2 separate regions of the Homo sapiens genome follow, and region 1 is linked to region 2. A link means that fine-mapping ties the variant in region 2 to the expression of a gene that starts in the linked region. Tissue or cell type: whole blood. Region 2 holds a variant in brackets; the other region holds the start of a gene. All regions are shown on one strand. Distances are from middle to middle.

The links. PIP is the estimated chance that this variant, and not a neighbour inherited with it, causes the effect.
Region 1: CHST11 starts here. The variant in region 2 is fine-mapped to the expression of CHST11 in whole blood (INTERVAL, PIP 0.98).

The regions. Positions count from the first base shown.
Region 1 is chr12:104,453,615-104,461,773 of GRCh38, forward strand. CHST11 (carbohydrate sulfotransferase 11) reads left to right here and starts at 3,334. Exons shown (of 3, transcript NM_018413.6): 1 at 3,334-3,915. The coding sequence starts at 3,798. RefSeq lists enhancers at 3,003-3,052, 3,073-3,152, 4,073-4,122 and silencers at 3,223-3,352, 3,433-3,602, 3,643-3,922, 4,513-4,652, 4,813-4,872.
Region 2 is chr12:104,572,700-104,580,872 of GRCh38, forward strand. The region is part of intron 1 of CHST11 (carbohydrate sulfotransferase 11); the gene reads left to right. Among named protein-coding and RNA genes, the nearest start is that of MIR3922, 15 kb to the right of the region's middle. RefSeq lists an enhancer at 7,416-7,525. The variant G/A (reference allele first, on the strand shown) is at 4,457.

The sequences.
Region 1 (8,159 bases), 120 kb before region 2:
AATGGTTTATAATTCAACTTCACAAATATTTACTGTGCTCTGGTTAACTGAGTATCCTTTGTGCTAGAGGTGCCAGAGAGATGCAAATGGCAGCGCCAGTCCTTGGAGGAGCCAGTCTGGGGCCCCTGGCTGATGTTGGCAGAAGACACATCCCTCTCTCCCTTCAAGGATGCTGAAGAGCTCTCTGTCTACTAGTACCCTGGGCCCACTTTTCTCTCCAACAAGGTGCAGAAAAGGGCATCGTTGCCAGGTTTGCAAGATCGTAACAAGACAGTGCATTGTAGGTATAATCTGCCGGAATGAGGAGGCGCTCAGCCTGCGCGGATTGGAAGGGCCACATAAACATCTGTCAGTCCATTGACAACAGCACCCAGAAGCCCGAATTGTGACTTCACACCGATTTCTTCCCCTGCTATAAATTCTACAAGATCGTCAACATAAATAAGACTTTCTCCTCAACCAGTTTTTCAGGGCCATGCCAGGCTTTAAAATGGGCAGGCCCCTGGCCGGGCGCGGTGGCTCACGCCTGTAATCCCAGCACTTTGGGAGGCCGAGGTGGGCGGATCACGAGGTCAGGAGATCGAGACCATCCTGGCTAACATGGTGAAACCCCGTCTCTACTAAAAAATACAAAAAATTAGCCGGGCGTGGTGGCACGTGCCTGTAGTCCCAGCTAGTCGGGAGGCTGAGGCAGGAGAATGGTGTGAACCCGGGAGACGGAGCTTGCAGTGAGCCAAGATCGCGCCACTGCACTCCAGCCTGGGCGACAGAGTGAGACTCCGTCTCAAAAACAAAACAAAACAAAACAAAACAAAAATGCAGGCCCCAGTTTCACTTGCATGTTGTTGAATTTGGAGAGTCAATCAATCAAGCCAGGTCCCACAATGAGCACAATGCCAATCTGCAGAATCTTTCAGGGCAAAAGGGAATTTAGAAAGATGAGGGAGAAAGGATCTGAAGACTGATCCGTTCCTCTTTCAATGTTCAAAGTATAAAATTTTTCTCCTCAGTTTTATCAGTTAATACTGTCCTTTACTTGGCTAATATTTATTATATAGCATAAGATGTAACAAAATTTTCTTAGGCTAGGAATGGAAAGAAAGCAATGATTCTAACTGTAGTTGGGCAGTTTAGAGTGTGATGAAGGAGAAAACAGAATTTTTTCATCACCCCTCAATGTGCATAGAACAACAGAATCACAGACCATTACCACTGACCTTTGTCATAGATTTTAGAGGTGATCTAATCTAACTTCCTAGTCCAAGTAGGCATTACCTCTCTGCCTCTGACTTATTTGTACCTACTATGTACCAGTCATTGTGCTGGGCATTAGAAAGAGACAGAGATGAAGACAACTTGGATCTCCAGGAAGGAGTTCAGCCTAGTGGGTACAGTGGCCCAAAAGAGGTTTGGACCTAGTGCTCACAGCGCAGAGGAGGAAAGTTGCAATTTCAGGTGAGAAAACAGCAAAGACTTCTTGGGAGAGGTGGTAGCTTATGTGTCACAGCCTTAATCCTCACTGTGTTTGGGCAGGTTCCTGATTGTGGGAATGCAAGAATGGATGTTGGGCATGATTCACCATCCTCCCCCACCATGTGGGCCAACTCCATGATCTCTGTGACTCACAGGGAATTGGACTTCTGATCTCTTCCTTGACCCTGTGACTTCCCAAACTGCCTTGTGCATGTCCAGGCTTTGGGGCAGGTAACTGAAGTCTTTGGCCTATGAGGTGAGAGGTCACTTGGGTGACCTGGGAGTAAATCCCTTCCCCTCCCTGGCTCTGTAAAGCCAAGTGTTAAATGAGAGACTTATATTCCAGGCAAAGGCTTTGTGCAAATGCCCATCTAAGCCATGCCCTCTGCAAGGAATCCCCTTTCTTAGTGATGATGGTGGGGAGGTGGGGAGGGTGCAGTGCAACTCCCATTCCTGATCTCCTATCACCAGAGCAGAAGAATCACTGGAGAACGACTCTGTCTGAAGCTTGTTCAGCCTGGCTTCCTTGAGCAAGCAACTTATTCACAGGTAAGTCCAAATTAATACAGCGCACACCGGCTACATAAATATTGTGCTTTGATTGTCTTCTGTAATCAAAGGCAAGGCTGCTGAGTTTGTTACTTTCCCCACCATGCAACTGCTGGAGGAGAACTCTGGGGGAAGGGAACTGAGGTTGCCCAGGTGGTTTTTGTTGCATGTGTCTAACTGCAAGTTGTGTCTCTGTCTATCGAGGGGAGGATAAGGCCCATTACATTCAGATTCAATAAGAATTTATCAAATGCCTATTTTGTGAGAGGCATTGAAAGACACAGTATCTTATTTCATTTTTAATTGAATTAGTAATGACTTGATAAGGCACAAAGGTTAGTCTAACTAACATTTTTTTTTTCCCTGACATACGAGTGATCCCTACACTATTGGCTGTGTCCACTTTATTGATTGTGAAACAGCCTAAATGCATGGAATTGGAAACTGGAAGTCATTCTACACAATACAAGAAAGCAGCACCATCTTTCCATGTACCTGCCAGTGCTATGGCTGGCTTGGCTTTTCCAGCAGTTTTCTGGACTTGGTTGAGGTGGCTTCCTAGGGGCATTTTCTCACCCCCTCCCAGCTAAGACTGCTGTTAATTTTGAATAATTTGGAGGATGCTCTACCCTTTGGGGTAGCAGAGTTTTGCAACCCACAGATCCCTTTTGCCTTGAGGAATGGTGGTGATGGTGGGTGTCAGAGATTCTGTCTGTATAAGTCCCCGGGAAAGCTCAGCTGTCGCCTGACCCGAGGGTCGTGCAGTTTCCTTAACCCTGACTTTAAGTCAGCCCTCTTTAACCCCGACTCCCAAGCTGGGCTGTCCTTTGAAAGAAAAACGAAACCGCCCAGTTCTGAGCGTCGGAAAATGGGCACTCGCTCCCTGGGGGTTTGGGGCAACTTCCCCGCTACGTCGCCCAGGGATTTTAAATAATTGCCAGCCACCAGAAACCCCCTAACCCTTAATTCTTCCCTCCGAGACCCAGCCCGCTGCTTGCCACTTCCCTCTCCAAACGCTGGCGGGGGTGGGTGGCAGCACCGAGGCGATTTTCTTCGTCTTTTTTTCCTCCGGGTTTTGTCATGGAAACGCTGACACAACCTCCAGACGGCGGCCGAGCCCGGCCGGGGACTGAGGGCTTTTGGGACCCTGCGGGAGCGCGGCGCGCACACCGCACTCCCCGGGCAACAGCTGGACGCGACCATATCCCGGGTAGGGGCGGGGGGAGCGCGACGCTCCGCCCCGGCGCTAGGGTCCCTCCCTCCTCCCGGCTCTCCGCAGGCGCCCTCCCCTCGCCGGGGGCCGCGAGTTGCATTTGGTAAAACCCAGCCCCGGAATATATAGATCGTTGGAGCGCAATGAAGTAGCCTTTGGAGAGAAGGGAGAGGGCCCGTCGGACAGCCACAGCGGCCAGCGCAGCGGCAGCGGCGGCGGCACCACCATCACCGCTCGCACCCCAGCCGCCCGGCCCGCGACCAGGCAGCGGCGGCCGCCGGCGGGATCGGAGGAGGCGGCGGAGCGGCGAGGAGGAGGAGCAGGAGCGCGCAGCCAGCGGGTCCACGCATCTCAGCACTTCCAGACCAACTCCGGCACCTTCCACACCCCTGCCCGGGCTGGGGGCTCCGAGAGCGGCCGCGAAGCGACTCCGATCCTCCCTCTGAGCCTTGCTCAGCTCTGCCCCGCGCCTCCCGGGCTCCGGTCCGCGCGGCGGGGTCCCTGCTCCTGCGCCCCGGGCGCGCTTCCCGGACACCCCGGTCCCCGCAGCCAGGACAAAGCCATGAAGCCAGCGCTGCTGGAAGTGATGAGGATGAACAGAATCTGCCGGATGGTGCTGGCCACTTGCTTGGGATCCTTTATCCTGGTCATCTTCTATTTCCAAAGTATGTTGCACCCAGGTAGGGGGCGCGTTAGCGTGGTTTTGTTGGATATTTTCTTCTCTCTCGCGCTCTAGCTCGCTCCGCCTGATTTCTGCCTCTTCCAACCCTACCTCTCCGCCTTCGGCCTCTTCGGGGCTCCTGGCTGCCCAGAGCTCCTGGCTGCCCAGATCTACCCGGGTCACCGCGTCGGGATGGGGAGGAGAAGGGAAGGTGTGCTTCGCCCTCTTCTTCCTACCGGCTCCGGGCTGGAGGATGGGACCAGGAGGGGCGGTAGTTTTTTTTTTTTTTTTTTTCTTCTTCTTTTTTTCTTTGTGTCCCTTGTCTGTCTGTCTGCGAGGTAGCAGGGAAACGGAGAGGTGTGGGAAGCAACCGGGGGTGAGGGGCTGGTTTGAGGAGAACGAAACTCCCTCCCTGCTGCTGCCGAGGTCGGAGGATGAAAGAGTTACCCGGAGCCGGCTGCTCTGCGCCCGGGCGAGCCGCCTCTTCCTGGTTGCCGGGCCGGGGGCGAAGGGTGTACGCCCCGGCGAGGTTGCGAGTCCCTGCAGCAGGCTGGGAGCCCGGGACTGGGCTCCCACGTGTCCCGGGCTCCGCGCAGAGCTGAGCAGGTGTGGAGAGTGGTCGGGTGCCCAGCGTTGCCCCTCCACCACGCGCCGGCCGTTTGCCCCCGGGGTCCGGCTCCGCAGTGACCTTGCGGCTGGTGCCCCGGGGCCTGCTCCAGCCCCCAGCCCTGAGCTGGAAACTCCGAGCTCCTGGGTCACGCCTTGACCACTGCAGTTTTGGAGGAAACTTTGGCCAGGTCCTGGGCTGACCGTCCGTTTGCATCCCCCACTTCTGGGATCCGAGCAACGGGAATCCCCCGGGCGGCGTGGGAATGAACCCCATTCCTCCGGTCCCTTGTGGCTCAGGCAAAGTTCCACGTCCGAAATCTGGACTGGGGGAGGGACGAGGCTCGTCGCTTCCTAGGGGTGCGAGGGAAAGTTTGGGTTCTGGAGAGGGAGGGGCGCCCTCGAGCGCGGCGGCCGGGGGTGAGCAGCTCGGCTGCGAAGCCCAACAGGTAGAACGTTCCGAGAAGCCTTCCGGGTAACGCGGGTCTCCCCGCCAAGCCGTGGCTCCCCTGCTCCCTTTTACCCTCCCTTAGCAGCCCCCTGCCGGGCCACGTTGGCTCAGAAATCCATTTTCTACGCCTCCGAGTTGCCTTTCTCAGCGTAGTCACAGCAATAATTTGCTTTTCTAATTGCAAGGAGGAGGGAGGTGGAAACGCATTTCCTTCCAGGGAAGTGGGGTTGGTGTTTTTCATTTTTGCCTCCCGCCTTCTCCTTTCACTGTGTATCTAACACTTTAAACAGACGCAGTCCCGAATTCATCAAGCCTGCGTTTGGGTCGATGGCAGAGGAATAAAGCTGTTCTTTCCATCAAACAGGCAGGGCTGCAGGCTGCAGATTCCTTGACAGCGCAGGGACAGACGGCCCCTTTGCCCCACTCGGTCTGGAGCAGTTGTTAAGGCAGCCACACTGCCAAGGATATGGTCCGACTCTACCACATGTAACCTCAGGACGTCCGAGCCAGCCCTGTTAAAGATGGCTTTTGTTTGCAGCTGGGTATTTTTAGTTTAATGTCAGCAAACTACAGCGGTGTTTGTCTCCTCACCCAAACCTGCGGTTGTGAAACTTATAAAGGAATTTAAAAATGGACCTGGCTTGCATTCCGGCAGGCAGGCCTTGGTTGCAGTGGGCAGGGCCAGACAGCCAGGGGTATCTCAGAGTGCCAAGCTCCAGGGCCCACCGGAGACCGGGCCAGACTCACCCCAGAGCGCCAGGGGACTGGTGGTGTACAGATACACTCGGGTTCAAACAGTTTAAACAAGGGGCCGGTGATTTGGTCTAGACTCTAGAGCTGTGTTCAGGTTTCGCTGGGACCGTGAATGCCAGTAATGCTCTGTACGAATGCCCAGAACACGGATGAGTGTCAGCCTTCAGCAGGAATGCGCTTGAGCTTCTGTGTACCTGTTAATTGCCCAGGGAAATACAATTGTCATGGAATTCTTTGTGAGAATTGGGAAATAACTTTCTAGCCAAAGATACTAGAAAGAAACTTCCAACTTGTAATTGTCACTTTGTGAAAATTTCCAGCCCTTGTTAGTCTTAAGTTGACTTGAAAGTGACATCATATCTTTTCAGCCTAGCCTTTTGGAAGAGGCAGAGAACCTTTTCTAAGCTTGTGCTGAAAAAGATCCTCTGTCGATGATCCTGCCCCATCCTTTATGTCCCCCTCTAGTCCTATTTTCTCCCATTGTTTATTATTTAGATCTCTATAAATATACTTTTCTGATATTTCCCTCCAGTCCATAGCAAATACTACTTTCAAAACATTGTGTTGAATGTAGAATTACAGATAGTTCAGTTGAAAGGCCTTCCTTATTTCAGATTACTTACAGTCCACAAAAGCTCTGTGTCAACAGTTTATCATTACACGGGGCATAAAAATATACTTTCAAATCTACATTAAACATTTTCTTTTTGAGGGGTTCATTTTATTAAGCTACACTGTTAATGACCACTGATGTGGAATCTCTTTCACTGGTTTGAATTTCTTTAAAAGTTAAAGATCCTTGCTTCTCTGAAGTATCTTGGGGGTAAGGAGAGCTGATCCTTCAGCCTGGCTCTGCAGTTTCTGTCTCTCCAGATCACCCTGGGAGAGGCAGAAGGGACCACAGCATGGCACGGATTGTGTAGCTAAAAATTTGGAGGCCTCTGGCAGGGGTTCCAGATACCTACATGTGAAATAGAAAAATAGTATTGCAAAAGCAATGGGTTCCAGGCTTCGTTGGTGGCTGGAGGGTATGAGAGGAGGGAGAGAAAGAAAAAAAGGAAGGCAGGGCGCGGTGGCTCATACCTGGAATCCCAGCACCTTGGGAGGCTGAGGCGGGTGCATCACTTGAGCTCAGGAGTTCGAGACCAGCCTGGCCAACATGGCGAAACCACATCTCTACTAAAAATACAAAAATTAGCTGGGTGTGGTGGCACACGCCTGTAATCCCAGGAACTCCGGAGGCTGAGGCATGAGAATAGCATGAACCCAGGAGGCAGAGGTTGCTGTGAGCTAAGATGGCACCACTGCACTCCAGCCTGGGCGACAGAGTGAAACTGTGTCTCAAAAAAAAAAAAAAAAAAGAGACAAAAAGGAGACAGCTGGCAAGGCTGGCTGTCCCTCTCTCTGATTCTAATCTGGGGCCCATTATCTTTTCTAATTCATAGAATTGATTAATTTGCAAATTTGAGTAATTGGTCATCAGTTGCACAAGGGTTTAGCAGAAGTGGGCCTTGTCAGTAGGATAGTTACATTTAGAAGTTTTTGATACTCTGAGTTAATAGTCTTCCTTAAGAATATTTTATAGGGCAAGGACCAGGTTTTAGACTCCATTTTAATCCCGATGTTTTTTGCACGGTGTCTGACAACAGTGGGTTCTCAATAGAATGTTTGCTGGATGAATGCATGAAGTGGTTAAACTCCAGAAGTAGACCCACTTCTCTGGTTTTCAGGAAGGTCACTTCTAGCCTTGCCAAGAATGCCTGGTCAATAACTCTGGCTCTGTCTGGTGGGGAAACTTCCTGCCTTCCTGAACTGTGACACGGACCCAGTTTAAACTAATCAGGCGCCAGACAGGAGCTTTCACCGTGACCTAAATTTGCAGCCCGTGAGGTGTAGGCAGCTGAGGCACTGCTCTGTGTCCTGGATTCTGGAGAAGGTTGGTCTTGTTTAGCCACTTAGATGGATTCTAAGGAAATCCATCCATAGAACAGACACCTTCTATGGCCGTGAACTATTCCTAAAGCTAGGGAGAATGGAACCATATACCTGTGATTTCTACACAGGTTTGAGTTCACCAATGAATGCTTCCTATGCAAGTTCATCAGCTTGCATTAAAATGTCTTGCATACCTGCCCCAGATGGCTGGGTTTTGATGGAGCTGTGTCATGCAGTGCAAAGCTGAGAGGCCCCCCAGGCTGCATTGGCACAGAGTGTGTAAAGGCAGCTCTTCAGAACCTTCCTTTTGTGTTACTCCATAGGATTGTGGTTTTTGTTTGAAATCTACTGTTCATAGAAAGAAGCCTTCAGAGGAGAAAGCCTTTTCTCTCCTGTCTGCTTCCTCTCTATTATTTTTATTTTTGCAAAATGTTTATTTTCACTGTCACCTGGGATTTCTTTGCCTCGGTTGAATGTATTGAAAGATTATATCCTTTATTTAAAGATGTCTCATTTTA
Region 2 (8,173 bases):
TGTGTCTCTGTCTCCTTCAGTTCTGCTCTGATCTTAGGTATTTCTTGCCTTCTGCTAGCTTTTGAATGTGTTTGCTCTTGCTTCTCTACTTTTTAATTGTGATGTTAGGGTGTCAGTTTTAGATCTTTATTGCTATTCAACATAGTGTTGGAAGTTCTGGCCAGGGCAATCAGGCAGGAGAAGGAAATAAAGGGTATTCAATTAGGAAAAGAGGAAGTCAAATTGTCCCTGTTTGCAGATGACATGATTGTATATCTAGAAAACCCCATCGTCTCAGCCCAAAATCTCCTTAAGCTGATAGGCAACTTCAGCAAAGTCTCAGGATACAAAATCAATGTGCAAAAATCACAAGCATTCTTATACACCAATAACAGACAGAGAGCCAAATCATGAGTGAACTCCCATTCACAATTGCTTCAAAGAGAATAAAATACCTAGGAATCCAACTTACAAGGATGTGAAGGACCTCTTCAAGGAGAACTACAAACCGCTGCTCAATGAAATAAAAGAGGATACAAACAAATGGAAGAACATTCCATGCTCATGGATAGGAAGAATCAATATCGTGAAAATGGCCATACTGCCCAAGGTAAGTTATAGATTCAGTGCCATCCCCATCAAGCTACCAATGACTTTCTTCACAGAATTGGAAAAAACTACTTTAAAGTTCATATGGAACCAAAAAAGAGCCCGCATTGCCAAGTCAATCCTAAGCCAAAAGAACAAAGCTGGAGGCATCACGCTACCTGACTTCAAACTATACTACAAGGCTACAGTAACCAAAACAGCATGGTGCTGGTACCAAAACAGAGATATAGACCAATGGAACAGAACAGAGCCCTCAGAAATAATGCCATACATCTACAACTATCTGATCTTTGACAAACCTGACAAAAGCAAGAAATGAGGAAATGATTCCCTATTTAATAAATGGTGCTGGGAAAACTGGCTAGCCACATGTAGAAAGCTAAAACTGGATCCCTTCCTTACACCTTATACAAAAATTAATTCAAGATGGATTAAAGACTTAAATGTTAGACCTAAAACCATAAAAACCCTAGAAGAAAACCTAGGCAATACCATTTAGGACATAGGCACAGGCAAAGACTTCATGTCTAAAACACCAAAAGCAATGGGAACAGAAGCCAAAATTGACAAATGGAATCTAATGAAACTAAAGACCTTCTGCACAGCAAAAGAAACTACTATCAGAGTGAACAGGCAACCTACAGAATGGGAGAAAATTTTTGCAATCTACTCATCTGACAGAGGGCTAATATCCAGAATCTACAATGAACTCAAACGAATTTACAAGAAAAAAACAAACAACCCCGTCAACAAGTGGGCGAAGGATATGAACAGACACTTCTCAAAAGAAGACATTTATGCAGCCAAAAGACACATGAAAAAATGCTCATCATCACTGGCCATCAGAGAAATGCAAATCAAAACCACAGTGAGATACCATCTCACACCAGTTAGAATGGCAATCATTAAAAAGTCCGGAAACAACAGGTGCTGGAGAGGATGTGGAGAAATAGGAACACTTTTACACTGTTGGTGGGAGTGTAAACTAGTTCAACCATTGTGGAAGTCAGTGTGGCGATTCCTCAGGGATCTAGAACTAGAAATACCATTTGACCCAGCCATCCCATTACTGGGTATATACCCAAAGGATTATAAATCATGCTGCTATAAAGACACATGCACACATGTTAATTGTGGCACTATTCGCAATAGGAAAGACTTGGAGCCAACCCAAATGTCCAACAATGATAGACTGGATTAAGAAAATGTGGCACATATACACCATGGAATACTATGCAGCCATAAAAAATGATGAGTTCATGTCCTTTGTAGGGACATGGATGAAGCTGGAAACCATCATTCTCAGCAAACTATCGCAAGGACAAAAAACCAAACACCGCATGTTCTCACTCATAGGTGGGAATTGAACAATGAGAACACTTGAACACAGGAAGGGGAACATCACACACTGGGGTCTGTTGTGGGGTGGGGGTTGGGGGAGGGATAGCATTAGGAGATATACCTAATGTAAATGACGAGTTAATGGGTGCAGCACACCAACATGGCACATGTATGCCTATGTAACAAACCTGTACATTGTGCACATGTACCCTAAAACTTAAAGTATAATTAAAAAAAAAGAAAAAAAGAAAGAAAAAGGAACTATTAAAAATGACTGTAGAGGCCGGGCGTGGTGACTCATGCCTGTAATCCCAGGTCTTTGGGAGGCCAAGGCAGGTGAATCATTTGAGTTCACTAGTTCAAGACCAGCCTGGCCAACATGATGAAACCCCATCTTTACTGAAAATACAAAGAAATGAGCCGGCGTGGTGGCATGCACCTGCAATTCCAGCTACTCAGGAGGCTGAGGCACAAGAATTACTTGAACCCAGGAGGCAGAGGTTGCAGTGAGCCGAGACTGTGCCACTGCACCCCAGCCTGAGTTACAGAGTGAGATCCTGTCTCAAAAAAAAAAAAAGAGTGTAGGACCACAGGCCCACAGGCATAAACTGGGATGATCCCAGGGTGACGGGGCTTTGTGTTTGCCCTAAACAGGATACACAATCCAGTAAACAAGTATTTTCTGAGTGTCTGCTGTGTGCCAGACAGTGTTCTTGCTATGAACAGAAAAGGCCCCAGGAGCTTGCCATTAAGGGATGCAGGAGGAACTGGGGACAGGGATGAGGCCATGTCAGGTGGGGACAGTGCTCTGAGGAAGACATGAAAGGTAGTGGCATTGCAGGGATGAGGGTGCCAGGAAGGCCTCTGCGAGTCCTCTGTGATAATCCGGGTGAAGGGGGTCTTAACTTAGACAACTGATAGGCAAAGAAAGGCCTGGGAGCAGGAACATCTGTCCGTTTGAAGGAAGTTTCCTGGGTGTGTTCTGAGTGAGCTGCTGAGTGGCCAGCAGGTGCTGTTCTGTGGGGTTGGGTGGAGTGCAGGTTGCAGCCTGGCCTGCATGAGCCAGCTGTCAGGGTAAAGGATGCCGAGCCACAGAGTGGTCCTCTTCTGAAGGAGGCTGTTCTGCAGGCAACAGGTTTGGAGGCCACTGCTTCGTCAGAAGGGCCCGTCCTGCCCTTTCCTACTTCGGCAGTGCTCAGAAATTGCTTATCGGGGTATTCCTTGGTCTCTGCCTGGGGAGTAGAGGAACTCAACATTGTAAATAAAAGGGTTAGCTTCTTCAAAATTCATTCTTGTCTTCTATTGTTAGAAACCAAAGCTCATGCACGAATGCCACCCACCCTGTGATTACAAACCATGGCCCTCGGGTGGGTGGGTGGCATGTGTGCATGAGCTTTGGTCTCTAAAATAGAAGTGTGAGAACTGTTCTCTCTTATGCCTGTTCCCTCCCAAGTACAGTATATCCATGTCAACTTACTCACAGGCGTGATGGTGGTTCACGTTAAGTATTCACTGTGCTTCTCAGTGGCAGGAGAGCTTTTCTTGCCTTAGCCTACTGTGTCCTCCCAGGAACTCTATGAACTAAGTACTGTGTTTATTCCTGCTTTCAAGATGTGGAAGCTGAGACCCAGAGAGGTGAAACCTAAGGAGCCCAAGGTCACACGCTTGGAAGAACAGGGGCTGGAATCCCTGACACAGTGGGCCTAGCGGAAGCCAGGGCAGGTATTAGCAGGCCCATTTTGCAGAGGGGAAGACTGAGGTGCAGTGATGCAAAATGTGTGGTGGAGGGCTGGGCCTGGAATCTGGGAGTTCTGGTTCCGGGTGACCGTCCACTAGAAAGGGAAAGGTGGCAGAACCATATATATGAGCCTGTTACTTGTTCAAGGACTTGGTCAGGGGCCTCACAGAACTTGGAAAAGAGCAACGGACTCTTCAGAGAAGTTCTTCAGAGAAGAGCTCTGAACTGGAGAGCAAGAGCTGGGAGCACCTCCCATGGCTGCAGTCTCTGGTCATTTCCAAAGCCCAGGAGAAGGCTGCATTTGGTCAACCACCCACTTCCATTTAGCCAGGGCCTTTAAATCATTCCCAAATCCTTAAAAATCACCTGGAATGTGTTTAAAAGGGCAGATTTCTGGGCCTCGAGATAGGCCTATTGAATCCGGATCTGGATTTTGGGGGCCTAGGAATCTGCATTGACACCACTCCAGGCTGCGCTGAGGGACATTCACGTTCCTCCAACATTCATGTTGCCATTAAGGGATGGAGGAGGAACTGGGGACAGGGATGAGGCCATGTCGGGTGGGGACAGTGCTCTGAGGAAGACATTCAGGGTGGTGGCATTGCAGGGGTGAGGGTGCCAGGAACATTCATATTGGAGAATCCCTGGACCTCGGTACTAAGACTCCAGAGGGGTGGAAATGACTGTGGGTTCAGTCTAAGGCTCCAGGTGGGGTGCTTCAACAAAAGACCATGGTCACTCAGGGCCAGGGCAAAGGTTATTATCAGCAGCCCCAGACACTTTGGGGAC[G/A]TGCTGGAAATATCTGCCTGACAGAGTGTTTCTGTTTTGCACCGGTATGATTCGTGTATCTGAGGGCTGCAGCCCTTCATTTTTTTTTTTTTTTTTTTTTTTTTTTTGGTATTTAAGAAAATGGTAAAATACACATAACATAAAATTTACCATTTTAACCATTTTTAGTGTACAGTTCAGTGGCATGAAGTACATTCACGTTGTGTTCATGCAGCCCAAACTTGAGAGCTCTTTTTGGAACACTCCAGGAAAGAAGGGCTGTGTACACACTAGGTGCTTAATAAGTGCTTTCAGATGACAGTGGGGTGGTGGGATTATCGGGGTGGTAGGCTACATTATCATGGATTAAGTAAGCATTCCCACTCTGTACTTTCTTAGGCAACTTAACTTCAGTCTGTAATGCTGAGGCAGACACTAGTGAGCTACGTTTAACACTTCATTTCTATTTCTGGGTGAAGCAGGATGATGAGTTCATTGTCTGGTCAATGCCAAGGGCAACTTCCCCTGCTTTCCTAGGCTCCCATGGCAGAATAGAGGATATCTGTGAAAAATCCAAATTTTCCTCCTATGTGTGTGTCGGGTAAGGGCAGCCCACAGTTATGACTGGGGCTCCAGTTTCAAATGCCGCTGACTCAAGACCGATCTGGTTGAGAACCAAACAAATGGGCCTTTTTATACTGAAGAGGAGATTTTTCTTACCACGTGTCAACAAAAGATCTGTAGACAATCTTGTTATACATTTCACACTGCTGACTTCATAAGTACAACAGCACTCACGACCCCTTTACATTTTTTGGTGTATTTGGGTTTATTTCTGTGGTTACCATGCACTGAGGGAAGTCCACAAAAGCCAGCCTGTTCAGGGCTGGAGCACGGTGCCAGTGGAATTTTGGTGAACTTCACAGCGGTAGAAGGGAGTGGACTGGGAGGTGCAGAAGTAGTGAATTTTGCAGCCGGAAGGAATCTTATATAGACTAAATCCCCCCTTATTTATAGATGAGGATATCAAGACCCAGCAACAGGGGGTGGTTCTGACCTGAGGTCACATCGCTGGTTAGGATCTCAGCCCATCACTGACTTCCTGGTCTCCAGACCCATTGACTTGCCACTGCTCGGATCTTCCCAGTCGTTGAACCCCGAGTTCCGTTGAACTAGATGCCTTGTAATATAATACACCTAACGATAAGTTTTCCTGAATTGAATATTCTTCCGAAAATCATTTATAGATTTGGTGACTTCTCCATTTTTCTTTTCCTGCATTTGGGTAGAATCAATCTTTGGCTCTGAGCAGATCTTTCTGTTTGAGTGTCTTTCCTAAGATCTTTATCTTTCTGGTTGCATTTTCAGAACCCCCTGCCTCTATTGTGATGAGAGCGCTGGGTCCGTTGGCTGTCTCTCTGGGATGACAGCACGAGTTGAAAAGTGGAGAATTGAGTCATCGGCTTTCTGGCGTGGTTTATTCTGTCCCAGAATCCCTAAGTCCTGTCTGATACTATTTAGTCACTGTCCTTGCAGTGTGAAAAGTGATTCACATGTAAGCCATGGAAAGCGCTCAGCAAGCTCTCTGAGACAGGAATTCTTGAGGAGGCAAAAGCCAACAGTGTTAATTGGAGATAGAGAGATAGGAATTCTTGAGGAGGCTGTGAAAAGCCAACAGTGTTAATTGGAGATAGACTGCCATGTGAGAGCCAAACCCCTCATGTTCTCAGGTAAAAGCTAGGAAAATGTTAGGCTCTTGTGACATGCAGTTGTCTCAGCTTCAAAGCTGGATTAATTAACTCACGTAATGCAAAATGTTTGTTGAGGGCCTATTTTGGGCCTGGTCCTACTCAAAGTAGCAACAAAAAGCAACTTGATGCTGTCTTTGACCAGAAGAAGCCATGAGAAGGTGCCCAGGTACTTATCAAAGGGCTTGGTTACATGCCCCTGTTTCCTTGTTACCCTTAAGCAATGAGAGAGAGATGCTTGAAGAAGAGCAGAAGCTCTGCTTGCTCTTTAAGCTTGGCGAGGGTTGGGTCTGTTTCCCCTCCTCCATTCCTGGGCTCCTAGTACCATGTGGTTGCTCAGTGAATATCTGCTCTTTCTTTTTAGCCTTCATGTGGGAGGCAGTTGTTGTGTAGAGGGAATAAGACTAGACTTGGGTCCAATTTACCTGGGTTGAAGTCTTTGCCCCACCACTTTGCTCTTGTCCCTGGACAAGTCACTTGATGTTGCCCAGCCTCCATTTTTGTTGCATCAATAGAGTGGAGATGCCAGCGATTGATCTTGTGACCTTGGGGGCATCACTTAACCTCCCTGACCTTGGATTTCTCATCTTTAAAATGAGGGACACTGAAGATGAGTGTGGAGCACATGTCGGAACAGACAATGAAACAGGCATTCGTTATTATCATTCCCATGTCAGAAATGGGCTACTATCTTACTGTTTTATCTCAAATGTAATTTCAAGAGAATGATACATGGTAACGTGGGTAACTTTCATTTGTCAATGTGTGGATGCGCCGCCCCTCTCCCCGGGGTGTATTCCTCAGCAGCCCGGCAGGGGAGGGCACATCCACACATTGCCTGCTTTAAATCTGTTGCCCGCTCTAATTGTGTAGACCCACTACACCCAACCAGCTTGTATCCCACAGATGGAAGGTAATTTGAATAACTGTTTAAGCCAAAATGTAATTGGAGATAAAAGCTAAATGTCTAAGGTCTAGCAGTATCAAGATGACCAGAAGTGATGCATTGGATCCTCTGCTGCTTCTGAATCATCTGGGTTAATTACCGTACTCTCCACCAGCTTTGGTCATCAAGGAGCACACAGAATCATTGCTTATAATTGAAGACTGTGGACAATGATCACATAAGATCATCCCTAAGTTACCAGTCCCTTTTATTCTAATGGACATTTGAAGAAAAAGGCCTGAACTTTCAATAAAAGCGTCGTCTTTTTGCTTTCAAGGCCCTTCAGCTAGTTCATTAGGGGATTGAAGCCAGACATCATTTGTGACTTTCCCCCTACATTTGGGGAATGGGGGATAGAATATCTTTTGTGGTTTTTGTTTACAAGAAGGAAGATTTCAGGCTTGAGCTGGAGTACGAAAGGAAATTGAAACTAAAGATTGGGTTCTGGATTTGACTAAAGTTTCTAATATTGTTCAGCCACAATAAAGCCAAAAGCGTTCACTGTATGCTCTGGCTGATATAGTAAAGCATGGGCATTTAAGAAAAGGGTTAATTAGGTCAATTAGATTAGATGTTAGGCTGCCTGTTTCTAAATACCATGGGATGTAATTTATTTCAGTGGAGCTTTAAGCCCTCATGCATGGTAGACATGTCGATTATGGATAAATTAAAGGCAAAATAAATGAATATTCAGTATGTCAGACACAATCAGAGAATGGTAGAAAAATATGTAACTTAACTTTCAACCTCTATAACAGCTAGGATTGTGCCCCATGCAAAGCTTCCTGGAAGTTTGGGAGCCCAATTTTTTCTCTCTACTTGTTGTAATTTACTTCTAGGATATAGCTGGGCCAGGAGGATTTTGTCAAGAAATGGGTGCTCAGTCTTCTGAGGCTCCATACTTCAGTTGGAAGGAAGGGGAATTTTCATATTTCTTGTTTTCTTTTTTTGTAGAGACGGGGTTTCAAGTCCAGGCTGGTCTTGAACTCCTGGCCTCAAGCAATCCTCCTGCCTTGGCTTCCCAAAGTGCTGGGATTAAAAGCA